Regions from separate parts of the Homo sapiens genome. Here all the other regions are linked to region 2. Evidence: fine-mapped expression QTL. A gene starts in region 2. Each other region holds a variant in brackets. All regions are shown on one strand. Distances are between the middles of the regions. Region 1 overlaps LINC02034 (long intergenic non-protein coding RNA 2034). Region 2 holds the start of PODXL2 (podocalyxin like 2). Region 3 overlaps PODXL2 (podocalyxin like 2).

Region 1 (9,883 bases), 71 kb before region 2:
GGCCTGAGCCTGTGGTTCCTGCAGGTCCCAGTGCAAATCTGTCATGTGTTTTTGCATAAAGGGAATGCATGTGTGCTTTCTCTTCAACCTTAGTCTCTAAAACTACTCAGCTCTGCCCCTCCTCTGCATAGTAGCCAGGGACATCCGGGAGTGTTTCTGAGCCTGCATGGTCTTTCTTCCTCTGGGCACAACCATGGGAGAGGTTGCAGGCCTCACTCTGGTCCCTGAACCAAGCCAACTCTCCTCTGCCCTGGAACCTCCTGTAGCCAGAGTCAGAAACCCGTCCTAAATTGGCTTCACAGCACAGGAGGATTTTGAGTCATTGTGAAGTGCAGGACTCTGGGGCTAGGTGGATCCAGGTGTTGAAAGAAGTCCGTTCAGAATTGATATCTGTCTCCTGGTTCTGGTCCCCAGATTGTGCCAGCTGACATCACATGTCCTTCCTGTGGCCATGGGACTGTGGTGCTTGCCAGCTAGCCTGTGTCGCAGGCCACCCACCTGTCCCCACCCTACCCAGATCTCCAGCTCCTCTCTGGAGCCACACCCTGCTCCCTGTGCCCCTGCCCCATCTGCTCATCTGCAGCCCACAGTTAAGAGGTCAGCAGACAGTGATGCTCATGTTTGCTTCATGCCTAGGATAACTGCAGTCTCAGAGAAGACCCCCAGAAACCCAAAATGCTTCCAGCCACAGAGGAGGAGAGCAGCTGGCAGCCAGAAGCATCCATTCCAAGTGAGAGACATCGAAGGGAACAAGGCTTAACCGCCTTGTCTTTGAACAGCACTAAATGATTCAGCAAAAGGGATGAGAGGAAACCTTTGGCCATGTCACGGGTTCACAGCCATCTGTATATGTTCCTATAGTCCTGCTTTGTACCTCCAGCCTAAATGATGGGGAGGTCGTTTGAAGATGAGACTGACCCTTCACTACATGTGCTGCTTCCAACCCCAGATTCCATCAGGCTGCACTTCTGAGATTCAGTGAACTCCCACTCATCCTTCAAAACCCTATCTCAATGTCGCTGCCATAGCAAAGCCTTCCCTGGCCCCCTCGGGTAGGGAGGGTCTCTCTGCCCACTGGCAGGCCAAGAAGGCCAAGCTCTGCCCTCTGAGAATCCATCAGTGTCCCAAGCTGACTTTCCCTAGCCTCGTATCCCTTCATTCCATGAAAGGGGAACTTAGGGTGGAGTGGAAATTTTGATCATCTAAAGGAACAATAATTGCTTTCATTCATTCATTTAAACAATATGTATTGAGCACCTACCAAGGACCAGGCCTTGTGCTAAGTGCCCCCACAGAGGTCACAATAGTCATATACTACAAACAAATACAGCATCACAAAGGTTGGCGCATGAAGAGACAGCAGCTAAGGGCATGGTCCTGGAGCCAGAATGCCTGGATTTGAATCACAGCTCTACTACTTCCCAGCAGCTTGTTGAGCTTAGCCAAGTCTCTAAGCCCCTCTGAGCCTCAGCTTTATCACCTGTAAAATAGGGATAAAAGCAGCATCTGCCCTATTCATCTGTTCACAGGAATACATGGCCTATGGAGGGAAAGTACCCAGGCTCCTGAGTGGGCCCTCCTGGCCCACGGCAGAAGCCGTGTGCATGTCTGTTCAACAGATACCTTTGGTGGCCTGTATGTACCAGGCGCTTCTATTCTCTGCTGGTCAAGGAAGGCTCACGGTGGAATAGGATTTAGCCCCGGGAGAGACAGCAGGGGCATTCTAAAGACATCGACTAGCTGGCATCCTGTGCCAGGCATCCCAACCTTTTGCGCATCGCGGCTCACCTGGAAAAGACGTGGGGGTGAGGAAGGAGGTGCCACCTGCATGAGGCATGGCAGAAAAGCATGACATCACCTTTATAGTGCAAAGCTTGACAGGAAGAATAAGATACAAAGTACTTAAAGAAGATAATCGATATTGGATGTGTATTAAATTTCCAAGGAAAATATTTTTAAATATGTAAATTAATCTTGAGTTGGCTTCTACAAGCATAACTTTTTTTTTTCTTTTTTTTTATTTTGATACAGAGTCTCGTTCTATCACCCAGGCTGGAGTGCAGTGGTGTGATCTCGGCTTACTGCAACCTCCGCCTCCCGGGTTCAAGTGATTCTCGTGCCTCAGCCTTTTGAATAACTGGGATTAAAGGCGCACAACACCATGCCTGGATAACCTTTGTATTTTTAGTAGAGGCGGAGTTTCACCATATTGGCCAGGCTGGTCTCAAACTTCCAACCTAACCGGGACCCACCCTGATCTGCCTGCCTTGGCCTCCCAAAGTGCTGGGATTACAGGTGTGAGCCACCGCAACCAGCCTTACAAGCATAAATTTTTTTATACCAATGTACCAGGTTTCATGCTTGAGCTGACTAAGCACAGTCCGGGATCAGGAATGTTTTTCAGGGGTCAGTCCTTTGGGTTCCTGACAGTCACCACTGATGAGAAGCGGCCGGGCAGGCAGTAGTGGATGAGGACCACCTGTGGCACTACAGAGAGCCCTCTGGTGGCAGGTGGGATGTCGACTGGGCACAGCTGCTGTGACTGAATCTGAAAGGTGACAGTGGTGCCAAAGTTACCTTCCAATAAAATTTCAACTGTTGCACGTTTTTGAATGGTTGTGAAAAAATGATTTTGTAACTATAAAAATGTATAACTACAAAGAATCTGTAAGCTTCAATGGCTGGCAGGTTAGGGTTGGAAACCTGGGAGTTTGAGGGCTCCAGGGCCTGGGGTGCTGGGGCGTAGATGGGGAGGGAGGGGAGGAGCACATGGGGGCCATGCCAGAGGGGAGCCGAGGGAGGGGGCTGAGCCACCGAATAGATCTGTGTGTTTCAAAGGTCTCTGTGACTGAGTGTGCAAATGGAATAGGATGGGGCAGAATAGAAATGACAGTGTTGGCCTAGAGGAGAGGGAATGGCAGCGTGGACCAGGCTGGTGGAGGTGGGAAGGAACAGGTAGATCGAAGCTACATTTTGGAAGTAAAATGCACAGGACTTGGTGACAGAATGGATATGGGGATGAGAGAGTAGGGGGTGTCAGGAGAATTTCCAAGGCCTGGCTCCTGGAACTGGGCAGGCAGGCATCCCCTTTGGAGTGGTAGCAGAGCCGCTTTCCTTACCCAGAAGCCGGCTGGAGTGGGGGTGAGGGGTGTCACAGGTCAACGCACCTCCCAGTTTTCTGGGGACAGTCCTGGTTTATACCTATCATCCCTGAATATGTACCTATTGCCCCTTCCACTCTCAAAAATGTCCCTGTTTTCCTCTGAATGATAAATAAAAATAAATGTAAATAAATTTTAAAATAAATGAATGCATGGGGAGAAGAGAATGCTCTTCCTAACAGTGGAAGCTAACTGGTAAATGTGGAAGGGGTGGAGTATGTGATCTGAAAGTCATTATTTGGCCGCCACTTGGGGAACAATTGTTTCAGGCAAGAATCAAAGGATACTAAAACTGGCAAGTAAGGGCCAGGCACAGTGGCTCATGCCTGTAATCCAAGCACTTTGAGAGGCCAAGGCGGGTGGATCACTTGAGGTCAGGAGTTCGAGACCAGCCTGGCCAACATGGTGAAACCCCATCTCTACTACAGTAGAAAAATTAGCCAGGCATGGTGGCACATGCCTGTAATTCCAGTTATTCGGGAGGCTGAGACAAGAGAATTGCTTGAACCCAGGAGGCGGAGGTTGCAGTGATGAGCTGAGATCG[T/C]GTCACTGTACTCTAGCCTGGACGACAGAGCAAGACTCCATCTCAATTTAAAAAAAAAAAAACTGGCAAATGGAAGGTGGAGGGAGAAGAGAGGATGCACCTGGGCTCAAAGCACTGCCTCCCCACAGAGGCATGTTACTCGCAAAGGGGAAGAGCACATTTCCCACATTTACAGGGAAGAAGGCTCCTTCCATAATCAAGTGATAAGACGAACTGCCACTGTGGACCCCAATGGGGTGCAGTGAGGAGAACGCAACATCCCTTCTGTGCCATCCCTCTGAAAACACAAAACCTGATCTAATCATTAGGAAGCAGCAGACAAACCCAAATTGAGGGGCATTCTATTTTTTTAAAAATGCTGGAGGAGGCCGGGCGTGGTGACTCATGCCTGTAATCCCAGCACTTTGGGAGGCCGAGGCTGGTGGATCACGAGGTCAGAAGATCGAGACCATCCTGGCCAACTTGGTGAAACCCAGTCTCTACCAAAAATACAAAAATTAGCTGGGCGTGGTGGCGAGTGCCTATAATCCCAGCTACTCGAGAGGCTGAGGCAGGAGAATCGCTTGAACCAGGGAGTCAGAGGTTGCAGTGAACCGAGATTGTACCACTGCACTCCAGCCTGGGCAACAGAGGAAGACTCCATCTCAAAAAAACAAAAAATGCTGGAGGATAACATTCAAAGGCATCCAATTGATGAATGTCAAGGAAAGACTGAACAATGTTCCTAACTAAAGGAGATTCAGGAGATGGGATAACTCAGGGCACCGTGTGGTCCTGAACTGGATCCTTTTGTTCGAAGGATATTCTACAATTGGCAAAACCTCAGTGGGGTCTGGGGATCAGATGCTGGTGTCCTCTCAGTGCTACTTTCCTGATTTGGATGGCTGTGTTGCAGAGAATGGTCTGTTAGAGGGAAAAACACACTAAAGGCTTCAGGGTGTTGGGCATCATGTCAGCAACTCTCAGATGGTCCAGGAGATAAAAGTTTTTTGTAGGCCAGGCGCAGTGGCTCACCCCTGTAATCCCAGCACTTTGGGAGGCCAGGGTGGGTGGATCACCTGAGGTCAGGAGTTCAAGACGAGCCTGACAAATATGGTGAAACTCCGTCTCCACTAAAAAAATACAAAAATTAGCCAGGCATGGTGGCAGGTGCCTGTAATCCCAGCTACTACTTGGGAGGCTGAGACAGGAGCATTGCTTAAACCCAGGAGGTGGAGGTTGCAGTGAGCCGAGATCATGCTGCTGCACTCCAGCCTGGGCAACAGGGCAAGACTCTGTCTCAAAAAAAAAAAAGTTATTTGTAATATCTTTGTGCCTTTTCTGTACATCTGAAATTATTTTTAAAATATATCTTAAATGTTACCCCAAAAAGGTGTGCTGGTGATTTGAACAATAAATTATATGGCCATCCAAACCACAAATACTACAACACAGCCATCACACCCCTTTGACCAGACTCTGCTGGGGACTGGAAGGGAATGGTCCCCAGAGTCCCTTTATATGATACTTGACATGGGAGATCAGGAAGAGAACACTCCCCTTTCCTACCCCAGGCCCCTTACCTATGCCCACCTGCCCCAGAGCTCTAGCACTTCCTGAGGATGCACTATACCCTCAGGCATTGCCAGCTGGAACATCTAATCAGGCCAGGCACGTTCAGGATGGAATGCTCTGACCAGCCAGCCCTGGTCAGAGCATTGGCCCTTCTAGCCATCAGTGTGGCCTATCTCAAGCTGCCCCGGGTTGGCATTCCTGGTCCTGGATCAGAATCTGTCTTCCCTGGGAGCCATCTCAGTGGCCTCAGCCCTGAGCCCCAGCCACACACCCCCAGCTATCGGGACTGTGCTGCTTGATTTCACTGTCAAACATCAGATATAGCCTCCCATCCTTCAGCATTCCCCACCCTACAGCACCCACCAATTCATTCATCCATCCATTCCTTTAACAAAATTGCTACTGAGCACTCAATAAGACCAGTCACTATCCTAGGCACTGGGGAGAGAGCAGTAAACAAAGCATACCAAAATCCCTGCCTTCATGGAACTTACACAATAAGGGAGATCAACAAGAAACTGTGTTAACAAACAAGTTAGCACAGTTAATTTGTGAACAGGAGTCTCAGGGGTAAAACAACAGCAGGACTCTATAGTTATCATTCCTGTGCACTTACTGTTTCCTCTGAACTTACAGTACCCTAGCACTTACTGTTCCACCATCACTTACTGTTCCCTGCACTTCCTGTGTCCCCAGACATCCTGTGCTTACACACCTCTGTTCCCCTGTACTTCCTGTTCCCTTGTACTTACTATTTCCTCTGCACTTCCTGTTGCCCCTACACTTCCTGTTACCTCTGCATTTACTGTTCTCCCGCACTTGCTATTCACCTTTTGATTACTGTCCCCTCACTTACTGCTCCCCTTGCACTTACTCTTCCCGTGCACTTACTGTGCCTCCTTGCACTTGCTATTTGCCCCTCATTTACCGTTCCCCTGCTGATACTGTTTCCTGCACTTACTATTAATCCTGCACTTCCTGTTCCCCTACACTTCCTGTCCCCCTGCACTTCCTAATCCCCCTACAATTACTGTTACCCCCAACTTACTCTTCCCCCATACTTACTGTTCACCTGCCCTTTCTGTGCCCCTACACTGCTGTTTCCCTGCTCTTCCTATTTCCCTGCATTTACTATTCCCCTGCTCTCCTTGTTCCCCTTGCCCTTCCTGTTCCCACTGTACTTCCTGTTTCTCTTACACTTATTATTCCCCTGCACTTACTGTTCCCCTGCACTTACTGTTCCATGGTGATATATGTTCCCTCTGTACTTACTATACTCTCGGCTGCCCACTTCTTTCCCCAGATACCCACAATGAAGCCCCCTCACTTTCTTCATATCTTAACTCCGAAGTCACTTTTTCCTAAGTCTTTCCTGCACAGTTTATTCACACTTTCTGCTTCTTCTCCCCACCCCAACAATTCCCCTTCCCCTTCTCTGCTTGTTTTTCTTTCTAGCACTCACTGCTGTATAAACCTCTGCAGATTCTATGTGTGTCTGCTGGATTATCTACCTCCCACAATAGAATATCAGCCCCTTCAGGGTGGGGATTTTTGTCTGGTTTCTTCACTGCTGTTTCCTCTGTGTGGATAGATGAACAACAAAAGGGGCTGCTTTCTAGTGTGGTTGTTCAGCTGTGTTGCTCTGGGAAGGTGATGCTGAGCAGAGAAGGAGGTAAAGAAAGAGAATCTGGCCGGGCGCTGTGGCTCGTGCCTGTAGTCCCAGCACTTTGGGAGGCCGAGGCAGGCGGGTCACAAGGTCAGGAGAGCGAGACCATCCTGGCTAACACGGTGAAACCCCGTCTCTACTAAAAATACAAAAAAATTAGCCGGGCGAGGTGGCGGGTGCCTGTAGTCCCAGCTAGCTACTCGGGAGGCTGAGGCAGGAGAATGGCGTGAACCTGGGAGGCAGAGCTTGCAGCGAGCCAAGATTGTGCCACTGCACTCCAGCCTAGGCGACAGAGTGAGACTCTGTCAAAAAAAAAAAGAAGAAGGAGAATCTGCAGAAGGAGTGAGAATTCAGGTTCTGTGATGTCACCTCACCGTTCCCAATGCAATGCTGATTTTCCCCTTAGGTGTGCCTGCTCTGTGGAGCCACCACTGTCTATTACAGTTTTAGGAACCCAGCTGCTCCCCAGGCTGGCTGCAGCAGGCTCTGGAGTGGCAGATCAGACCTAACATAGCCATCACACTCCGCGCTGTCTCACAGCCAGGTGGAGCAGCCCCATATTCCCCACCCCCTGCTGCCTGTTCCATGGACTCACTGCCAGCTTGGGCCTTTCCATAGAACAAGTCAGCCAGTGACCACTTTGGACCCTCTTTCTTCACATAATATGCTCTATCGCCAAGTCTTCCCCATCCTGCAAGTCTTCCCCATCTTGGACAGATTGCTGACTTATTCTGGAAGAGAACTTCATCTGGGTCCCTGCCCTCTCAGCTGGCAGTGAGCAGAATCATTCCTAGCAGCCGAGGCCTGTGAATGTGATTCTAGCATGAGGACACACATAGATGTTGGAGAAATAAGCCAAGTTCTCGTCTCTTTGGAGAACCCACAGTTGTCAAGAGCCTTCTGAGCAACAGCTATTTTATAGATCGGCTAATACCCGACAGGAAGAGATATTATCGTCCCTATGTTACAGAAGAGGAAACTGAGACCCAGAGGGTAAAATTACTCACCCAAGGTCACTCTTAGAAGTAGGGTCTAACTTGCAACCCAAGCATCCGACTTATTTCCCTCACACGGCTGCCTCCCTCTGCATAGTGCTGACCTTCCCAGCCGGTCTGTTCAGATCTGGCAGTGTCCCTCTGGCCTGAAAATCACAGTTTCCCAAAATGGGATGGAATCAGAGAGGTTGGATCAATGACGCACTGTTAGCAACCCCCATGGGCCAAATGGGGCCAGTTGGAATGGCTCTGAGATAGGCCCAGAATGTGAGGAGTGCATCCCAGCAAGATGGTTCCCAGAGCTCGAGTTGCCCCCTGAGGATCCATGCAGCAGGGGCAGTCGACAGAACAAGGGCCTGTTTCCACCGGCTGAATTTGAAATCACTTTGTCTCAGCATCCCAAGAAGTAAACCCGGCAAGGAGGAACAGCAGCCCTGAAGCAACTCGCCCGTGGACTGCCCGTCGTGCTCCCCAGCTCTGTAGGTCTAAATGGTGGGTCTGTCCCTTGGCAACCCTAAAACTTTTTGGTCTCAGGACCCCTTTACACTCTTAAAAATTGAGGCCCTCAAAGAGCTTTTGTCAGGGAGAGTTTTGTCGATCAACGTTTACCATACTCATTAGAATGGAGAGCTTCGAAAGCACAAGAAGCCATGAGCATGCATCTCACTGGCTGTCAGAGCTGTGATGTCATCACATGCATGCCTGGAAAATTCCACCATGCACTGTGACAGAATGAGTGAGAAAGGCAGATCATAGCTTATTGTGAAAATCGTTTTGACCTCATAAACCCCATCAAAGAGTTTCAGAAATCCGTAGCAGCCAGGACCCAAGTTTGAGAACTCCTGGTCTATGTCACGTCCTTGTTTCAAAAGCTCCAGGGATTGCTGTGACCACTTGGAAGAAAACTTTGGCAGCATCGAATGAAGTTGAAGATGTGTATGCACATGACCCCAGAAAATTTATTCCTCAAGATACACCCTAGGGAGGGCTTCAGAAAGTCAGACACCAGATGATGCATGGGGATGTTGTTTGCTGTCACAGCTTGCAAACAACCTGAATTGTCAGGAGAACTGACAAATAAATGATGCTGTATTTGTATAATGGAATACTATGCAGTAGTTGCAAGTATCAACATAGATGAGTCACCAAAACAAAATGAAATGAAACATCAAGTTATGGAAGAAAGTGATCAGTATGAACTTATTTGATTAATTTAAATGCACACAAGACAATGCCACATACTGTCACAGATACATACTGCATGGATAAACACAAAATTTGAGAGAGTGGGAGAGTAGTTGCCTACTGTAGGGGTCAGAGGAGGGAAATAAGAAGTAAGGATTACACATGATCGGAGTGAATTGTATCCATGATGTCTTAATTTATGAGGTAACATTTGAAAGACCTATCTGAATGACTATGGGAAACTATGACTGGCTGCTGGTGGTACAACACCACTACCACCAGCACCACCAGCACCACCATCATCACCACCACCATCCTACCAGCACCACCACCACCATCCTACCAGCACCACCACCACCATCCTACCAGCACCACCACCACCAGCACCACCACCAGCACCACCATCACCACCACCAGCACCACCATCACCACCACCAGCACCACCATCACCACCACCAGCACCACCATCAACACCACCAGCACCACCACCAGCACCTCCATCAACACCACCATCATCATCAATATCACCACCACCATCATCACTACCACTACCACCAATACCACCAACAACAACATTACTACCAATACCACCACCACCACCACCATCACCACCACCATCACTACCACTACCACCACCACCAAAACCACCAGCACCAGCACCACCACCATCCCCACCACCATCACTACCACTACCACCACCACCAAACCCACCAGCAGCACCACCAGCAGCACCATCATCACCACCACCACTGGCACCACCATCAGCACCACCATCACC
Region 2 (9,883 bases):
AAAAATAAACTAATTAATTAATTAAAAAATGTACAATTCAATCGTTTTAGCATATTTGCAGTTGTGCAAATTATCACACTTTTAAAACATTTTCATCACTCCCTTCCCCCAAAAAACATACCCATTAGCAGTTACTCCTCTTCCTTCCCCACCAGCCCTAGGCAACCACTAATCTGCTTTCTATTGCTAAAGATTTACCTATTCTGGACATTTCATAAAAATTGAATCATATAATATGTAGTCTTTTGTGATGGGCTTCTTTCACTTAGAATAATGTTTTCAAGGTTCATCCACGTTGTAGCATGTGTCAGTACTTTCTTTGTATTGCTGACCAACATGCCATTGTATGGGTATGCTACATTTTATTTATGCATTCATCAGTTGATGAGAATTTGGGTTGTTTCCACCTTTTGATTATTATGACTAATGCTGCTATGAACATTCCTGTAATGTATTTGACTAGACATATGTTTTCTATGCTCTTAGGTATGTATTAGGAGTGGAATTATGAAGTCATATGGTAACTCTATGCTTAATCTTTTGAGAAACTGCCTATGTCCAAAGCAGCTGCACCATTTTACATTCCCATCAGCAGTGTACGAGGAGGGTTCTTTCTCCATATCCTATATAACACGTGGTCTCTCTTTTTAATTCTAGCCACCCACCTTAGTGAGACGCAAAGTGGTTTCCTTTTTTTTGAGACAGAGTCTCGCTTTGTCACCCAGGCTGGAGTGCAGTGGTGTGATCTCAGCTCACTGCAACCTCCACCCCCTGGGTTCAAGCAATTCTCATGCCTCAGCCTCCTGTGTAGCTGGGATTACAGTCATGCACCACCATGCCAGAGTAATTTTTGTATTTTTAGTAGAGACAGGGTTTTGCCATGTTAGCAAGGCTGGTATCCAACTCCTGACCTCAAGCTATCCACCCAGCCCGGCCTCCTAAAGTGCTGGGATTACAGGCGTGAACCACCGTACCCAGCCTGAGAAGTGGTTTCTTATTGTGGTTTTGATTTGCATTTATCTGATGGTTAATGAGGCTGAGCATGTTTTCATGTGCTTATTGACATTTGGAGGAATGTATATTCAGATCTTTGTCCATTTTAAAACATTGAGTTGTCTTTATTACTGACTTGTAAAAATTCTTTGTATATTCTAGATACATGATTTCCAAATGTTTCTTCCCATTCTGAGGATTGCCTTCACTTAAATTTTTGTTTCTTTTTTTGAGACAGAGTCTCACTCTGTCACCCAGGCTGAAGTGCAGTGGCACAATCATAGCTCACTGCAGCCTTGAACTCCTGTGCTCAAGCAATCCTCCCACCTCAGCTTCCTATGTAGCTAGGATTACAGGTGTGTGCCACCATGCCTGGCTAATTTTAAAATTTTTCATAGAGATGGCATCTTGCTTTGTTGCCCAGGTTGATCTTGAACTCTTGGGCTCAAGTGATCCTCCCACCTCAGCCTCCCAAGTAGGTAGGACTACAGACATGCACCACTACACCTGGCTAATTGATTTACTTAGAGATGGGGGTCTCACCATATTGCCAAAGCTGGTCTCAAACCCCTAGCCTCAAGTGATCCATCCTCCTACCTCAGTCTCCCCCAAGTAGCTGGGATTCCAGGCACATGCCACCACCCCTGGCAGCTTTAGAGTTTTCTTCATTTGGAGCTTACATATCTGGTTTGGTTTATTCCAGTTTTTAATAATTGTTGCTGTGATTGCGATCTTTTCTCCTACTACATTTTCTAAGTGGTTATTGAGGATACACAGAAAAGCTATTGATTTCTGTACGTTATCTTTTATTCAGCAATCTTGCTGAACTCATTGGTTTTCAATTATTTTGCCAACTGATGATCTTGCATTTTCTAGATAAACCTGCAAATAATGAGTTTTCCCCCAATACTTTCATCCCATTTCTTCTATCAGGCCTTGTTGCAGTGTCTCTTATAGAATATTCAATCATTGTGGTGGTAGTGAGGATTATTTTGTTCCATTCACTTAAAAGAGAATGTTTCTAATGTTTCATCATTAAGTATGGTTTCACCATTAAGTATGATAATAAAGGTTTCTGGGAGATACCCTTAATGGAATTGAGGACGTTTCCTTCCATTTCTTGTTTGCTTCTAAGATCTTTGTTTCTTGTAACAGAAAAACAAAACAAAACACAACAAAAAACCAAAGGGATGCTCCTTTCATCCTCAGAGGAGGAAAGAAGAGGGAAGCTGGGTCTAGACACACCCTGGATTTCTCTTTTCCAAGCCCAGCTGACAGCCACTTTTCTAGTACCCCTAACACCCACCAAATAAAAGGTGCTACATTTTGCTCATGTTCTTTCTTTTGTCTGGAACCCATTTCTTCCCTATGCTCCTCCACCCCAACTCCTATTTCTCCTAAGTATTAATATTTAGTCTGGAAGAGTCCCGTGAGATTATCTCCAATGTCTGATGCTATACCCCTGCATAGGGGGGTGGGGATATACTTTGAAAAAGCATATTCAAATAACGATTTGTTATTTTAAAGAAGTGTTTTCCTAATATGGTATATATAAAGTAACATTCCACAAAATTGTGGTTGCTGTATATTTAAGCTGCAGTACTTCTAAAAGGGTAGTCGGGGTTTTTCTCTCCCTAAAAGAGGCTGAGCTTCTTTCTAACTCAGGAACTCTATCAGTGAGCTTTTCCCTCTGCCTTGTAAGTTCTCTCCCAAACCCAATCTCCTACCTAATACCCACTCATCCTTCCAGATGCCAGCCAGCTTACCTTAAATGCTGTTTCTTCAGGAAGGCAAGCATAAGGTTCCCCTCTGTGCTGTCTCCTAGCCCCTTATACTCCTTAACAGACCGACTACCAATTGCAATCATAGGACCATATGTGTGTCCATTTTGTTTTTCAGTCTGTTTTCTCTACGAGCCTAAACTATGAGGACGAGGGATGTGCCTGTTTTATTTACCACTACAGTGCTTGGCATATTAAGGATCTTCAGTTGCCAAAAGGGAGCACATGTTAGAGAAGTCAGCACCTCTCTCATAATCTAAAACCCCCCAGTTAGCAAATGGGGCAAGTGGGGCCCAGAGGTGAGAAGAGATTTACTCAAGGTCTCGGAACCAATCTGATCCTGAGCCAGACTGCCTAGCTCTAAAGTCCAGTTCTTTGCTCTCAGGTTCTCCTTCAGGGCTCACCCAATCTAAGTACCCTGAGAAGTCTTTCCTTACCCCAGGCCTCTGTCCACCCTCACAGTCATTTCCACGCGTCGTCCTCGTCCCATCAGTCCCATCTGCCACAGCTGCCCACTCTGCTTCCCAGGGAACGGGTGACCGCGCGGGGAGAGAGCGGCATCCGGGCGCGAGGTGCGAGGCCCAGGTCTGCGGGCGGCCGGGCCAAGCCCCCGAGCCTCGGCGGTGCTGATTGGCCGGCCTGGCGGGGGGGACGGGCGGAGGGACGGCCGCCCGCGCGTCCGCTTCGTCTCCGCGGGGGCGCGCCCGCGGCACGCGGCCGGGCGGGGCCGGGCGTGAGTGACGGCCATGCGGACCAATGGGGCGGGCGCGCGCCGCCGCCGCCGCCCGCGCGGCCCCTGACGCGGGCCCGGGCGCCGCGCCGCTGCGGCTGCAGGCGGCGACGGCTACACCATGGGCCGGCTGCTGCGGGCCGCCCGGCTGCCGCCGCTGCTTTCGCCGCTGCTGCTTCTGCTGGTTGGGGGTGAGTGCGCTCCGGGCCCGAGCGCGGGAGGGCGGGCGGCGGCGTGGGCGCGGTGCTGGACAGCTCCCCGGGCCGCCAACAAAGGGGCCAGAGTGCGGCGCCGCCGGGAGCGCGCGTGTCCCGGCCGGGCCGCGGCGCCGCCCCGACACACGCGCACGAGGAGTGGGTGCGTGGGGGCCGCGGCGGGCGCCTGGCGTGCCGGGCGACCCCCGACAAAGGCGCGGCGGTGAAGCTGGGACACAGCACCGTGGCCCCCACGCCGCGGCTCTCAGGGGCAGGTGCGCAGGCTGCTGCCTCGCGGGCCGGGGGGGCGCGCACGTGTGGGTGTGCATGTGTGTGCGTGTGCTTGTGTGTGTGCGAGTGCATTGTGTGCCTGCGCACTCGGGGGAAGAGGCGTGTGTGACAGCCACGCGGGGAGGAGGCCGCATTGTGAAGGTCCCAGGGGCCGCCTGCGGAGTGTGGGGCGGGTACGCTGAGGCGCGGGTGGCTGTTTACGCGTGGCGTTGCCGGGAGGGAGTGTGAGTGTGTCACGGTGAATGGGTATTCTCTCCTGTTCTGGGCGACTCTATTAGGAGCTGACAAAAACGGGCGTACAGCCACGGAAGGCCCGTGACAGCACACGGCGGGAGGCTCCCACGCAGCTCACACACGAGGGAGGTGTGAGACTCAGATGTGTGGTTTCCATTCAGCAGCCACGCCGGGCGGCGGGCTGTGTGGGTGCGTGGCGGGCTGGGGGTGTGGCACAGGTGTGAAAGGGATGTGTCTGCCTGAGAGAGAAAGAGACGGGCCTCCTGATGGCTTCCAGCGCAGACGGGGATTTAGTGGAGGGGGTGTGTAGGGAGGTGGGCATGGGGTGTGACAGCCCATGAGGCAGGCGGCCACTATGGAAATGGCGGGGAGAAGGGCTGTCTGCAAAGGTGGGTCAAATAAGGTCATAGCTGAGCAGCTCCTGCACACACTGGCAGAGCAGAGGGAGTGTGTTACGGTGTATGTTAAGGTGTGACTGGTGCTGCTGGAGGAATACCCGGATGAGGAAGTGTGCATGTGTGCCTGTGCACACTCATCAGCCAGCTGTAACTTCACTTCTGATGCACACGTCAAAATAGCGTCCTAGTATGATGTGTGTATGTGCATGTAGGAGTGTGTATGTGCATGTAGGAGTGTGCACAGGACATTTCCCACGCAGCTGGCCCATGAAGACACAGGCACTTTGTGTCCAGATGTGTGTGAGTGAAAGAGAAACTAGTGAAGGGTCTCTATGGGAAGGGAGGAACAGTCTTTGCCTGAGGTGGGCCATGAACCTGGGACTCAGAGTGGCAGAATCCCAGGGTAAATGGCTGGGAGGGGAAAGTGGTCCCTCGCACATTCCTGTGCATGTCATGGGAAGGCTCAGTTCAGGGAGGGTACATTTTCTCCACAGTCAGTCTAGGGATGAAGAAAGGCCCTAGGTGGTGTGCACAGAAAAACATGTCCATCAGTGTTGGCTCAGACACTCACACAAACCCACCTGTATTCTTTCACGCCGTAAATCCTCTTTGGAAAAAGGCGACATTCAATAAATAAACATCAATTGATTGGTCTGCTATTTCTTTGTGTGACAGTCATAAACCAGAACTGGCCAGCAACGTCCTCATGGACCCAGGCCCAGCTGTAACTGCCCATGTGCTTATGTGACCAGCTGTGAGGACTGCAGGCAGCCTGCCTCCCGGCTCCTCTCTCCCGTGCATGCTCTTCATGACGCACTTCTTACCCCCTGCTTGGAGGGCATGTGCGTGTGTCTAGCAGTGTGTCTCTTTCTTACACACCTTTGTGTGGAAGCCCTTCAGGGACCTGTCAGCATTGTTTCTCAGGTGCTTACAGAGTGGAGGTAGCGTGACTGTGCTCAGCAGTTCCTGTTGTCGCTGACACTTAAGGGTGAGGAGCTGTGTGACAGATGCTGCAGGGCCCCTCCCATGTTGGTGTCTGCCAAGAGCTTAGGGAGACTGGACTTCAAAGACCCTGCTTAGGGGAGAGGTGGGGTGTAGCTGATGGTGGAAATCAGAAAGGAGTTTTGCACCGGGAGCAGATCACAGGGACTGATTTGAAAAGGTAAGATAAAACATGAGGATCGCTGGGGTCTTGTTTTTTTCACCTCCCCAAATGTCAGCCTGCTTCCTTTGCCTCCTTCTGTGTTTGTTTGGGTCAGATTTTCATTTCTTTGAGGCTGATCCCCTAATCCTTTTCATGTGCCATCTTTTTCTCTCTCCTCTGTTGGGTGTGATGATGTAACAGAAAATTATAGGTGCTAGAGGGAAAAAGGAAATCAATCACACGCAGAGTGTAATTCTGAAATTTTAAGTCAGGTGGGGTCTCAATTAAGGCAGATTAATTATTAAGTGCAAAACTAATTATACACAGAATGGCTATGTCTCAGCTACTATTTTGGTGTCATCTTATGGTGGGCAAGTTTGAAAATAAGTAACCTCTTGTAATTACTTAAATAAATACCCATTGCCAAGGCCTTTGAAAATATCAAGTTCTATGTAAAGACAAAACAGTCATTAGAGGGAAAAATAACTTTAAGAAAATGAAACTGTTTACTGGAAAAGGAATGAAAAACCGGGAAAATACCAGATTCCTTTTTCTTCAGTAGGGTTTTCAAAATCTTTGCCAATTCCTATTAGACCATTGGGAAGGGAAGACAAAGAAGGAAAGGGAGAGATGTTAGAGGAAGGTTATGGGTTCCTGGCTTGACAGGTGGGAGAGCTCAGAGAGGTGGGGGCTCACTGGAGCCATGGAAATGACAGGGAAGGGGCCTAGCAAACACACCAGACCACAGTACTGTGCACAGACAGCTGGACTGACTAGAAAGTGTTTTATCCCCCAGAGTGGGGAAGGAAACAGGCTCCTCTGGGCACAATGACCTGGAGAGGGCAGAGCAGTCTTCTTGAGTTCCAAGCCATTCCGAGGAGCCAGAGTAGGGTGTAGACGGCAGCAGCCTCCCCGCCTGCCATGCCACAGCCTCTCCCTGCCATGCCACAGTTCAGCTCCGAGAGAGAGTGCCAAGGTTTGAGAGACAACCCGTGTTTAATCCTTCAGTGGTTTTGTAGAGAGTGAATTTCAAAATTCTTAGGGAGAATCAGTTTACACTTTTCTAACAAGGCTGAAGTAATATCTTTCCCAGCATACCTGCTGGAGGTTGGAGCATGCAGATACAGATCTCCAGTTCATGGCCCTCTCAAAGGCAGGCTGCCCGGGTGCCCCGGGAACCTATACAATGTGTATTATTTAATTATTATAAACATTTTCCATCAGTTGACTTTTTTCTTCCTGGAATGCATGAATGAGTTTTTCCAGATTTGTTTCTTGTATTTTGGCTCCCTGCCAGCCCTGGGGATACTGCTTTTGCAAAGCAGTCTGCTACATCGGCTCATATCCCCTAAAGAACTTAGGGTTCCACTTCCCAAGAGTTTGTAATTTTCCTGAGGGCAAAGCCTGTCTCTTGTTCATCTGTCTCTTGTTGCACCTCCAGGAAGGGCCTAACACACTGTTTGGCACAGAATAGGAGCTCAGGAGTGACTGTATTTTTCTTTGTAATCGAGAGTCTAATAGAAATTTTACCTCTAATAAGAGCACAGCCCACCTGAAACCAAAGTTCAATTATAATTGGATCACATCTGATTGGCAGTACTACATGATTCTGATTCACTTTTCAAAAATTAGAAAATAACTATTAAATAAGTACAGTTTATAGATGAAACATTTCCAAACACAGGGGCCACATGCAAATGTAAATAAAGGGATTCTTGCTTGTGAAACATTGGGAATCACTTTACTAATTTGGTCTTTTTCAAGAGAAGAGATTCCTTCAATTGATTGGATTGGTTGTGGGGACCCTGGGCAGAGTGTTTGGAAAGGGGTATCTTCTAGTTTTTAGCTCTGGCTTCTTTCCCTGGCCCTTAAAGCACATGAAATATTTAAGCTGTTTTACATATTCTCTTCCTTCACGTATCCTTTGGAGGAAGGAAGGTACCCAGCCCCACAAGTAATAGCTTTCCATTCTTCTTCCTGGAGCATCCACAAGATGTTTTTGTGGGGGAGAAACCAGCTAATTTCAGCTCCTCTATTAACTAGCTGTTTGACCTTAATCCCACTAGGCCTCAGTTATTTCATTTGTAAAACAAGAGGGTTGGATTACAAATTTTGTGTGTGTGTGTGTGTGTGTGTGTGTGTGGGAGAAACCAGCTAATTTCAGCTCCTCTATTAACTAGCTGTTTGACCTTAATCCCACCAGGCCTCAGTTATTTCATTTGTAAAACAAGAGGGTTGGATTAGACTACTAATTATTTATTCAAACCTTTATTGTGTCCCCATCATGTGTAAAAGGTTGTGCTAGGCACTGGAATTACAGGGTGGAATTGAAACAAGGGACTCCTCATTTACAATGGAGGCTGTATGAAGGTCTCTTACAATTTGGTGAGAAAAGTGGCGTGACAGTAGTTTGTTGAGAAGGCTGTGATAGAGAGGAGTGGTGTCTCATCCAGACTTGGAGTGGCCACAGAAAGCTTCTCGGAAGCTGAGACTGCAGGCAGGAGTGAGAATTAGCAGGTGGGTGGTGGGACAGGACAGAGATGGGGAGATACGGATGTTCAAGCAGAAGAGCATATGCAAAGACCCAGAAGGCAAAAGAGGCGGCTGTGTTCTGGAAATTGCAGGTAGTCAGTTTGTCTGAAGCGTAGAGTATGATTGGGGAAGGTGGGTGCAGAGAGGGGAGGGGAGGTAATGGTCAGTTTATGAGAGCCTTCTCGCCTTTTCAAAGGATCTGACCTGTATGATAGAATGATAGAACCAGATTTGCATTTTAAAAAGACCTCTCGGCCTGTGCAGTGGCTCACGCCTGTAATCCCAGCACTCTCGGAGGCCAAGGTGGGCAGATCACCTGACGTCAGGAGTTTGAGACCAGCCTGGCCAACATGGCGACACCCCGTCTCTACTAAAAATACAAAATTAGCCGGTCATGGTGGCACATGCCTGTAATCCCTGCTACTCGGGAGGCTGAGGCAGGAGAATCGCTTGAACTCGGGAGGCGAAGGTTGCAGTGAGCTGAGATCACGCCATTGCACTCCAGCCTGGGCAACAAGAGAGAAACTCCATCTCAAAAAAAAAAAAGTTGACTGGGCACAGTGACTCACACCTGTAATCCCGGCACTTTGGGAGGTTGAGGCAGGCAGATCACCTGAGGTCAGGAATTGGAGACTAGCCTGGCCAACATGGTTAAACTCTATCTCTACTAAAAATAAAAAAAAAATTAGCTGGGCGTGGTGGCAGGTGCCTGTAATCCCAGCTACTCGGGAGGCTGAGGCAGGAGAATCGCTTGAACCTGAGAGGCGGAGGTTGCAGTGAGCCAAGAACGCGCCATTGCACTCCAGCCTGGGCGACAAGAGTGAAACTGTCTGAAAAAATAAATAAAAATAAAAAATAAATAAAAAGACCTCTCTGAGCTTTGTCACTCAAAGTGTGGTCCACAGACCAGCAGCATCAGTCACACCTACTGTGTCAGAAGACTCGGGTGACTCACACACATTTCAGTCTGAGAAGCGCTGATTAGAGGGCAGTGTTCGGGACAGATGAGTGCAGGGGGAATTGCTAGGGGTTCGTAAAAGAGCTCTCTTTTTCTTCCAGCGGTGAAGCACTATGAGGACTGTAATTCTAATGGAGGCGTCTCTCATGTCTACACATCTATGTTTCTGTATCGTCTCTGCTGTTTTGCTTTATCGTGAAGTGTGGGGCATTTCGGCCATGTGCCCCCCTGAGTGGCATGGTTGTCTACCCTAGAGAAAGGGAAACTGAACACATGTTCCTGAGATCCCGGTGTTGTTATTTCCTCCAGCCTCCTTTCTCCTTCACAGTGTACTGAGCACAGTTAGTACAGTGCCATGAGCAGTTCTGTTAGTAGCTACCTTTGAGATCTCTCTCCCTGCCCTACTAACCCTGTGGCTCAAACAGAGTTATATGGTCACTGTTACACTATTCCATAATGATTTGTTTTCTTGCTGGTCTCTGTAGTAGAAACTGACCCTTTTGGGGCAGGGACCCTATCTTTCTTATTTCTGTACCAACATAGCCTTGGATCATGCCTAGTCCAAATAAGCATTTAATAAAGGCTTTTTGGTTGAAGAATGAATGAATGGATGGATGAATGAATGGAA
Region 3 (9,883 bases), 32 kb after region 2:
GAGGTAAAATATATTTATTCTTCTATATACTTGTTTTGTGGGTGTGATTTCCTCCTGAATCTTTCTGAAGATATTAACAAGAAACTTTTCTGAATTCTCTTTTGTTAACTAGACTAACTTTTCCTAGAGGTCAGTTGCTTTATGGTCCCACCCTTATGCTTCTTCATCAGGCTGGCTTTCTTAAAATGTCTTGTGAATCTTGGTTGTTCTTTCTTTCTTATTTATCTGTAGTGACTTCACTACAGAGTGTGTGCAGTAGGTGGAAGAGGGGGAGGATCTGCTACTCAAAAAGTCTAATTAACAGAAGTGGACTGGATAGAATATTCTAATTATTGATTTAAATACTATAGTGGGCTTTCAGTTGTCACTAGGATTGTTCAGCTTCTAAGTCATACTTTTTATTACAGGGAATCAATTTTTCTTTTTGAAATAATCGTTCTCAGAGCTCTCTCTGTGTGTTCTAATTTGAACCAATTGCTTTCCAGGCTTACTGCACAGTTTCCATCCTGAGATATATTTTCATTGCATTCCTCTCATGTTTCTTGATTTCCCATGTCTTTTTTTTTTTTTTTTTTTTTGGTTTCTTAAATAACTTACTTAAATCTCTTGGAATCTGTGGATAGTAACACTTTTAAATCTTTGCATGTATGAGAATGTCTTTATTTTGCAATCACACTTGAGTAGTCATTTATTTGGATATAACATTTCAGGTTCAAAATAAACATCCCTCAGATTTTTCAGTGCATTTTTAAATTCTTCCTCTAGGCTACTGATATTAATTAGAAGCTTCATGATAATTTGGTAATCTGTTTCTTGTTCCTTTACAGATAACCTGTTCTTTCTCTGAGAGCTGTTAAGATTTTCTCTTGCTCCTTATAATTCTAAAATCACATGAGAATGAGGCTAGGTGTAAGTCTTTTATCATTCACCTTGATGATACAAGCTTTCATTGCAAAGATTCATGTTGCCAGCTCTGAAACTTTTTTTCTTTGTTTCTCTCCATTATTCTCCATTTTGTTGGTTCTATCTTTCCAGAAATCATATTAGCTAGGTATTAGATCTCCTACATTGGTTGTCTGTATCTTTTAACTCTTATCTGTTGTCTTCTCACTTTTGCCCTAGAGGCTTTTCCTTGACTTTTTTTTTTCCCAGCCATTAAAAATTTGAATTTTCAATCCGTTGAATTTTTAAATATCAACTATTGACTTTCAATATCCAAGAAATTTTTCTTTTTTAAAGATTACTTGATTTTCTGAGTGGCGTCTTATTTTAGGGATGCAATATTTTGTAATCTTTCTGAGGATACTAATTAGACTTTTAAAAATTACCTTCTGTTCTCTGAATTTTCTGTGTTCTACATCCTTGCTCCCACAGTTGTGCCTCTTCCTAACTCTGGGTAAGAAAGCCTGCCTCCTCCCCTGCTATTTTTTCCTATGTTTATTTTGGCTGAGGGGTTATCTGTTCCTATAATCTCATCTGCTTTCCATGTTCCCAGAAATTTCTCTAAAATGTTTTTATCTTCATTTTGACAGTTAAAATTGTTTTTGTCATTTGATAAAAGTTTTGGAGGAGGAGGTAAATGAATACCTTTAGTTCGCTATCTTAAAGTGTTCCCACCACTCTCCTTTCTAAAGAGTATTTTAAAACTACAATATTTATTATTTTGAAACAAAATGGCAGCCAATAAAAGTTGCTTCCTAGATACAGCTTCTGATATTTTGAATGAATTTCCAAAAAACTTGTTGTATAACTTTCATGCATAGTTATTTGGAAGAGGCCTAGGGTTCATTGAAAAGCCAGAAAACAATCTGATCTCCAGGAAGTCTCCTAACTTCTCTGCTTCAAAATGTAATTCCCAAGAATGGCAGGGAGAATAAAAACCCCTCTCCCATTGCCAACAGTGACCCTGAACATTCTGGGAGGCCCTGGAAAACTCTGGGCTCAGCCCCTGGCCTCTCTCTGGCTCTCCCTACATCTTTTTCATTTCCTGTCAGGGCCTAAATTACAGAAAAAGAGCACAGTTGAGGAACAATGGTCATAATTGAGGGGTCTCACTTCCTCCAGTGATGAGAGGGCTCTCAGACCTCCTTCGGGGACTCCACCAAGAAGACTCTTATAACGACTCACTAGAAAAGGAGTAGGGGGACCCTTCCTAGTGGGTTGTTGTGGGATCTTCTTGGTGAAATCCCCAGATGAGGACAAGCAAGCACATTACAAACACAGTGGAGAATATATACCTCAAACTACTCATGGCTCTTTTGGAGGAATGCAATATACAAAACTTTCTACATTCCTGTGTTCATTGAGTTTTGGTGATAAATTTGTATTATTTTATCATCATAAAGGAAACAGTGACTAGCCTTGTCCCTGTGTCCTCCCACAGTCTGCTCCCCTGGCCTCTCCATCATGACCTGATGACCCCTGCCCTGTCAGTGTATTGTGGTTCTTTTATGCCATCTGCCCAGTAAATACTGAGTAAAGCAATGAATGATGAAACAAGTGAATGAACTTTTCATCTCTGTCCTTAGATTATGTTTTTCCTGACTTAACTGAGAAGGCAGGTTCCATTGAAGACACCAGCCAGGCTCAAGAGCTGCCAAACCTCCCCTCTCCCTTGCCCAAGATGAATCTGGTTGAGCCTCCCTGGCATATGCCTCCCAGAGAGGAGGAAGAAGAGGAAGAGGAAGAGGAGGAGAGGGAGAAGGAAGAGGTAGAGAAACAAGAGGAGGAGGAAGAGGAGGAGCTGCTCCCTGTGAATGGATCCCAAGAAGAAGCCAAGCCTCAGGTCCGTGACTTTTCTCTCACCAGCAGCAGCCAGACCCCAGGGGCCACCAAAAGCAGGCATGAAGACTCCGGGGACCAGGCCTCATCAGGTGTGGAGGTGGAGAGCAGCATGGGGCCCAGCTTGCTGCTGCCTTCAGTCACCCCAACTACAGTGACTCCGGGGGACCAGGACTCCACCAGCCAAGAGGCAGAGGCCACAGTGCTGCCAGCTGCAGGGCTTGGGGTAGAGTTCGAGGCTCCTCAGGAAGCAAGCGAGGAAGCCACTGCAGGAGCAGCTGGTTTGTCTGGCCAGCACGAGGAGGTGCCGGCCTTGCCTTCATTCCCTCAAACCACAGCTCCCAGTGGGGCCGAGCACCCAGATGAAGATCCCCTTGGCTCTAGAACCTCAGCCTCTTCCCCACTGGCCCCTGGAGACATGGAACTGACACCTTCCTCTGCTACCTTGGGACAAGAAGATCTCAACCAGCAGCTCCTAGAAGGGCAGGCAGCTGAAGCTCAATCCAGGATACCCTGGGATTCTACGCAGGTAAAGTGAGGGGCATGCGGGCCACCACCCTGTACCTTCTTCACAGAGCCTGGCCATCCCCAGGGCTAGTGTGGCATGGGGGCAGGATCTGCCAGGTTGAGGAGGGAGGCCCTTTCCACAGCACGTAGAACCCCATGGAACTTGTGGGGATGCAAACCTCAGGGCCAACAATGGGTGTTCTCCCCACACTTCTGTGCAAAGGCCTTTGGAGAAACTTGGTGGCCTGGCCTGGGTTTCATTTGTTCATGTGTTACCATTGCCACCCTTAGACATCTTTTGTTTTTTTTTTTTCCCGAGATGGAGTCTCACTCTGTCGCCCAGGCTGGAGTGAAGTGGGCATGATCTCGGTTCACTGCAACCTCCACCGCCCAGGTTCAAGCAATTCTCATACCTCAGCCCCCTGAGTAGCTGGGATTACAGGCATGTGCCACCATGCCTGGCTAATTTTTGTATTTTTAGTGGAGACAGGGTTTCACCATGTTGGCCAGGCTGGTCGGGAACTCCTGACTTCAAGTGATCCACCCGCTATGGCCTCCTGAAGTGCTGGGATTACAGGCATTAGCTACCGCACCCAGCCCACACTTAGACTTCTGCACTGATTCTACCAGCAGCTAGAGCTAGTGGCTGACCTGTGCTTTCCCCATCCCATCTCACCACCCTCCTCCTCCCCACCGACACCCATGTGCATAGCAGGCACAAGTCAGTGTTCACACCCACTGACACCGCAAGGAAAAGAAAGGAGCCCCAGAATATTAACAATAAACTTGCCCTTGAAAGCCAGCATGTGGGGCAAGCTCTCTGCAGCCTGGCCCCTTTGATATAGTCCCCTACTTCCTGGGAATAATGCCTGGCCTCCTCCTCTCACTCAATACATTCCCTGCTTGGTCCCCAAAGACATTCGAGTTTGTACTCCTTGGCATGGTGCCTCACAGAGGCTGTCAGCAGCCCCCTCGCTGTAATACGCCTCCACTGGCCTCCACCTTCCAGCTTCCCAAAAGGCCTCCGACCGGGGCTCTCTCCCCTGTCCCTTTCCTATGCCTTCGTAACTGTCGCCCTTCTTTCTGTCTCCTCGCACAGGTGATCTGCAAGGACTGGAGCAATCTGGCTGGGAAAAACTACATCATTCTGAACATGACAGAGAACATAGACTGTGTGAGTGCCCAGCCAGGCTCCGAACCGCAGGGAAAGGCTGCAGGCAGTGGACAGGGTGGGGCAGAGGGCAGGCTGGGGGGACAAGCAGTGCGTGGGAGAAGGCTTAGTCCTTCAGTTGGTGGCCCAGGGATATACCAGCAGCCATCAACATTACACACAGAGAGCTTTCGTATTTTAAAATGTCCAAAGGCTCTTTGGTTCTTGCTTCCCTCTCTTTTTAATTTAAATGAATACTTTGTTCATGTGTGCACCATCTTACCTCTCCCGTGATATTGAAACCTTTCTGTCTTTTTTAGAGTTGTTTTCTTCCTGTATAGGTTGCTTTTCTCCGTTT[T/C]GGGTCTCAGCCTTTTCATATATATACATGCTCTCCACACATGTCTGGTGGAGTTTGTTCATAGCTCTCTCTATCGAAAAAGTGGCTGGAAGCTTTGAGCATAGTGCTAGGGTTGTCAGCTATGGCTTCTCATGAGAGTGGTCTGGCTGGGCCGTATCACTTAGAAATTTGCAATGGCAGCATTGTTAGGTCCTTCCTCCTGAGGTGATTAGAGTCTTTGAAAAGGGAACTTCTGTTCTGTTCGAAGTATAACAAGTTGGTTGTCAGTGTTCTGGGAGCTGGGGTGGAGAGAGAGGGCTGGGTGTTTCAGTATTATAAATATGTATCCATAAATATCAATATTCATGTACTGTCTCTTCCTGTTTGCAGAGTGACCTTCTCCCTCCCCAAAACACACACTTGTGTCTGATGCTCTCTAGGTCAGAGACCCTCTGTTTTATCTTTTTTAAAGAATAAACTTCCAGTCTTCTGCCAGGGAGAAGGGACATTTCTTGGCTGTGCAGCACTGCGGGAAGAACTAGGGACCCAGCCGTTTCTTAAGCAAACTTTCGACCAGCTCATATTTTTAGTAGCATTTTCATCCCCTCTTCCAAAGGTAACCAGGGCCCCTATTCCGGGGCATCTGGGGAGTGTCAATCAGTATGCATCTGATTGCTTCTCAGCTTTCCTCATTTTGGCTTAGGGTTTGGCTCTTTAGAGTTTGCTAAATTAGGAAATTCTAACTCACCATCTGCTTCCAGTGTCTAGATTTTGTTGCTCTTGTCTCCTCTTCTGTTTTGCTTTGTCTCTGGTTTTAGGCCTTAAATTCTTTACTCTTGTTAGTGGGCCTGGGCAAGACTGAAGGGACATGCATGCGTTGAATCCAAAAGTCCCCAGCAAGGTTGGTTTCCCCCACCATCACTATACTGATGGATCTTCACCTAAGTGATGTGTGTTTTCATCCATTGCAGTTATTATTTTTACTGATGCTCAATACCTCATCTTTGGCCAGGGAAAGCCTCTTTGAGTTGGCCTCTGAGTCCTTTTGACCAATCTATTAAGTGTCTGATTGCTTCCTTGCTTTCTGGCATAATAAGACATTCCAGGCTCACCTTCCTCCCCCAGACATGGAGCCCTCATTCCCTTCATTGGGAAATGGTACATGAAGACCACAGATGGGTACTTGGGACCCTTGAACTTTTGGTGTGCATACTTGAACAATACAGCCTAAAGTTCGTATCTTTTTGCCAATCAATACATAGATATTAAGATGCTTTTATTCTGTTTTCCCTGTTTTTGTCTTCTGTGTTATTCTAATATGTGACCTCCACTCAATTAGTCATCATTATTTTTTATGGTAGATTTTTTTTATTGTAGTAAAAAACATAAAATTTTCCATTTCACCCTTTGTAAATATAAGTTCAGTTGTGTTAAGTATATGCACATTGTTGTGGAACAGAGCCCCAGAACTTTTTCATTTTCAAAGCTGAAACTCTGTACCCATTAAATGACTACCTGTTCCCCAGTCCCGGCACCCACCATTCTCCTTGCACCCACCATTCTCCTTTTGGTTTCTATGAATGGGACTACTCTGGATACCTAATAGAAGTGGAATTAGACAACATTTGTCATTTTTACATCTGGTTCATTTCACTCAGCATAATGTCCTCAGGGTTCATCCATTTGGTAGCATGTGGCAGAAATTTCTTTTTTTTTTTTTAAGGCTGAAAAATATTCCATTGTATGTATATACCACATGTTATTTATCCATGCAGCTGTCCATGGACACTTGCATTGCTTCCATCTTTTGGCTATTGTGAATAGTGCTGCTGGGAATGTGCTGTGCAAATATATCTTCAAGACTCTGTTTTTAATTATTTTGGGTATATACCCAGAAGTGGGGTTGCTGGATCATATGGTAATTCTATTTTAAATTTTTTTGAGGAATCTCCATACTGTTTTTCGCTATGAGTATACCATTTTACATTTTCGCCAGCACTAGGGTTCCAGTGTTTCCACATCCTCATAAACACTTGTTCTTTTCTGTTTTTTTAAACAGTGGCCATCCTGAGAGAAGTGAGGTATTTGGTTGGTGCAAAAGTAATTGCGGTTTTTGCCATTGAAAGTAATGACAAAACCCGCAATTACCTTTGCACCAACCTAAATGGTCTCATTGTGGTTTTGATTTGCATTTTCCCTGATGATTGGTGATGTTGAGCATTAGTCATTATTATTAACAGTCAATGCTTACTATATTTTATCAACATACTTATTAGTTTCTTTGCCAGATTCACCACTTGTTAGAATTTTTTCAAACCATTTGAGAAAAAGTTGAAGACATTATTTCCTTTTGCCCCTACCCCCAAATACATTAGTTTGTGTTTCCTCAGAACAAGAATATTCTTTTAGATAACCACAATGGAATGGTCAAAATCAGGAATTAGCACTGCTACAAAACTATTATCTGATTACCTACCTTATTTCAATTTCACCATGGTTCCAATAATGTCCTTTATAGCCTTCTTCCCTCCCATGCCGGGATATAATCCATGGTCATGCATCACATTATTTGTCTTGTCTCTTTAGTCTCCTTTAATCTGGAATAGTTCCTCGGCCTTTCTTTGCATTTAATGACCTTGACTTATTTGAAAAATGAAAGGAATAAATGTGCATAAAAACTGATGGGCTATACAGAGACTACATATTCAGAAAAAGACAGGGAGAAAAGTGCTGGCAGTCTCTTGTGGAAAGTTTTACACGATGGAACTACAGGAGTTCCAGGAGTTCAGCCCTCAAGATCTAGAGAAAGTGATGCAGGCTCAGTGGCTTCTATTTTACCTAGATGTCACAGGTAACATAGAAGAAACTGGAAAGAAGTCTAAGAAGGAAACATGAGAGGAGGAAGAAAGATAAAACAGGAAATCCAGAGGTGGTGTTTTTGAGTTCTAGAAGGCAAAAGAAATCCTTACTGTAGAGATGCAAGGATCTGATCCTTTGTCTAGCACAACAGAGAGAAGTGCTAGAGGATAAGGACAAGGAGGAGAAATATGTGGATCATCCTTTAGTGAAAATCCTGAAATAGAGCTTCCATGCAAAGGGCTGGATCATCAAGATCTGGATAAAGAAGCAGCGTTGACACAGTGATGAGGCGCCAGTCCTTTGCCTGAGGCTGCAGAGTTTCTCAGTGCATGCCACACACGTGCTTACAAGATGTTCCAGGCTGCATGGGACTTTCCTTGCCCCAGCCCCCAATTTAGCCATTTCTGCAAGGAGTCCTGCTTCCTTTTAATGAGGAAAGGTATTTAGAAACTAAGATCTGGGCCCCAGGTGTGCTCATGGCTACTGGGGTGTCACTGCTTCTAGGCCCTTCTAGAAGAACTGAGCAATATGGATCTTTATTTCTGTCTCTCTCTAGGGCATAGATATACATATATCATGTATAATGCATGTACACATATTAAAAGTACAAATTCAGTATTTCCAATTCTAATCCATCACCACTGGATGATGTCCTCCTGTGCTTACTGCTACAAACTTTAGATCTGTAGTCCATCTGGAATTAGTTTTGGTAAATGATGTCAGGTATGAATCAAGGAACTTTTTTTGTTTTCCATGGGATATCCAGTTGTCCCAGCACCTGTGATTGAATAAGTACTTTACTTATTCACAGTAAGGTAGGGTGTCAGGACCATTGCCCATGTTTTTAAATAGGGAAACTGAGGCTCAGAGAGGTACTTCTTTTTTTTTTTTTTTGCTGACATCACAGAGAGCTGACAAATGGCAGAAGCAAGATTTGAACCAATGTATTTATTTATTTTTGTCACCCAGGCTGGAGTACAGTGGCACAATGTCAGCTTACTGCAGCCTCAACTGCCCAGGCTCACGTGATCCTCCCACCTCAGCCTCCCAAGGAGCTGGGACCACAGATGTGCACCACCATACTTGGTTAATTTTTTTGCATTTTTTGTAGAGACGGAGTTTGCCGTGTTGTCTGTGCAGGAGTTGGAACTCCTGGGCCCAAGTGATCCACCTCCCTTGGCCTCCCAAATGTTGGGATTACATGAACCAGTGCACCTGGCCAGAACCCAGATTTATTTGATTCCAAAGTCAGGGCTTTTCCCCCTTGCCACGGACATTCAGTTTTCCTGTCTACATAATAAGTGGTATGAAATCTGCAGTCATCAGATCCTCCCACACTGACATTGTGGGTCTCTGGGCTTAAGCCAGGCAGACATATGTACCCAGGAAAACATGGGGTGTGCAAACACAGCAGAGCACAGAGCCACAGCACAGAGGGCAGGCACTTCATGTGGCAGGAGAGTGCTTGTTTTGTAACCAGGGGTCTGTGGGTCATGGTGCATGGACCCTTGCTCTGGCAGGGGCGGGCATGCACTCCTTCTCCCCCCATACTCAATCAGTGAATAAAGTAAGAACCATCACAGAACTAGGGGTTTCCATCTGCTCTATGGCCATCTCCAGGTACCCATCTTCTCCCACATTTAAAACTCAGTTGGCTGGCTATTAGACCAGTGAGTGCCAAGGCTTGAGCCTGAGCCTGGCATTTGCCATGGTAACAAAGAACAGAGGCCCAGCATTTCAATCCCTCTGGTAGCCTTTAGGTTGGCATGACAACTACGGAACAGCTCATTAGCCTGGGCTCTAGCAGAAGGGAGATTTGGAGTGGCAGGGGATCCTGCAGGGCTGGCCTGGTGAGATGCTCGTGCCTCCCAGTGGCGCTGGCTCTCAGCTGCATAGCAGGGCACTGTGAGAGAGCTGAGCACCTGGGAGAGGGGTATCTGCAGCAGGCTGTGGAGGCTACGAGCAGGGAATGTGTGACTGTGCATGTTCAGGAGGGAGAAGGCTGCTGGGGAGGAGCCGGAGTGAGGAGTGGCCACAGGGCCAAAGGAGGGTATCTTCCTAGATGGGGCTGGGCAGGGACAAATGGCAGGATGTGAACCAGGAGGCAGGGTTCTGGCCTGTGCCCCAGCCTGGGCTCTTGCCATTCGTTGAGTTTCTGTTTAAGGCCAGGCTCTTATTTTTGTTTTAAATTGTGGAATTACACGTACACATGGTCAAGAAAACCTCACAATACAAGCGAGTGCACGATG

The links. PIP is the estimated chance that this variant, and not a neighbour inherited with it, causes the effect.
Region 1: its variant is the best candidate, but not a certain one, in a credible set for the expression of PODXL2 in whole blood (TOPMed, PIP 0.60).
Region 3: its variant is the best candidate, but not a certain one, in a credible set for the expression of PODXL2 in whole blood (INTERVAL, PIP 0.75).

Annotation. Positions count from the first base shown.
Region 1 is chr3:127,554,265-127,564,147 of GRCh38, forward strand. LINC02034 (long intergenic non-protein coding RNA 2034) reads left to right here. Exons shown (of 7, transcript XR_007096067.1): 7 at 637-2,613. Among named protein-coding and RNA genes, the nearest start is that of MIR6825, 16 kb to the right of the region's middle. The variant T/C (reference allele first, on the strand shown) is at 3,706.
Region 2 is chr3:127,625,595-127,635,477 of GRCh38, forward strand. PODXL2 (podocalyxin like 2) reads left to right here and starts at 3,591. Exons shown (of 8, transcript NM_015720.4): 1 at 3,591-3,695. The coding sequence starts at 3,626. It overlaps LOC107986126 (a long non-coding RNA gene), which reads right to left and starts at 3,369. Exons shown (of 2, transcript XR_001740892.2): 1 at 3,212-3,369. RefSeq lists silencers at 3,524-3,593, 3,704-3,833 and an enhancer at 4,234-4,293.
Region 3 is chr3:127,657,850-127,667,732 of GRCh38, forward strand. PODXL2 (podocalyxin like 2) reads left to right here. Exons shown (of 8, transcript NM_015720.4): 3 at 2,529-3,310; 4 at 4,388-4,462. Among named protein-coding and RNA genes, the nearest start is that of ABTB1, 10 kb to the right of the region's middle. The variant T/C (reference allele first, on the strand shown) is at 4,797.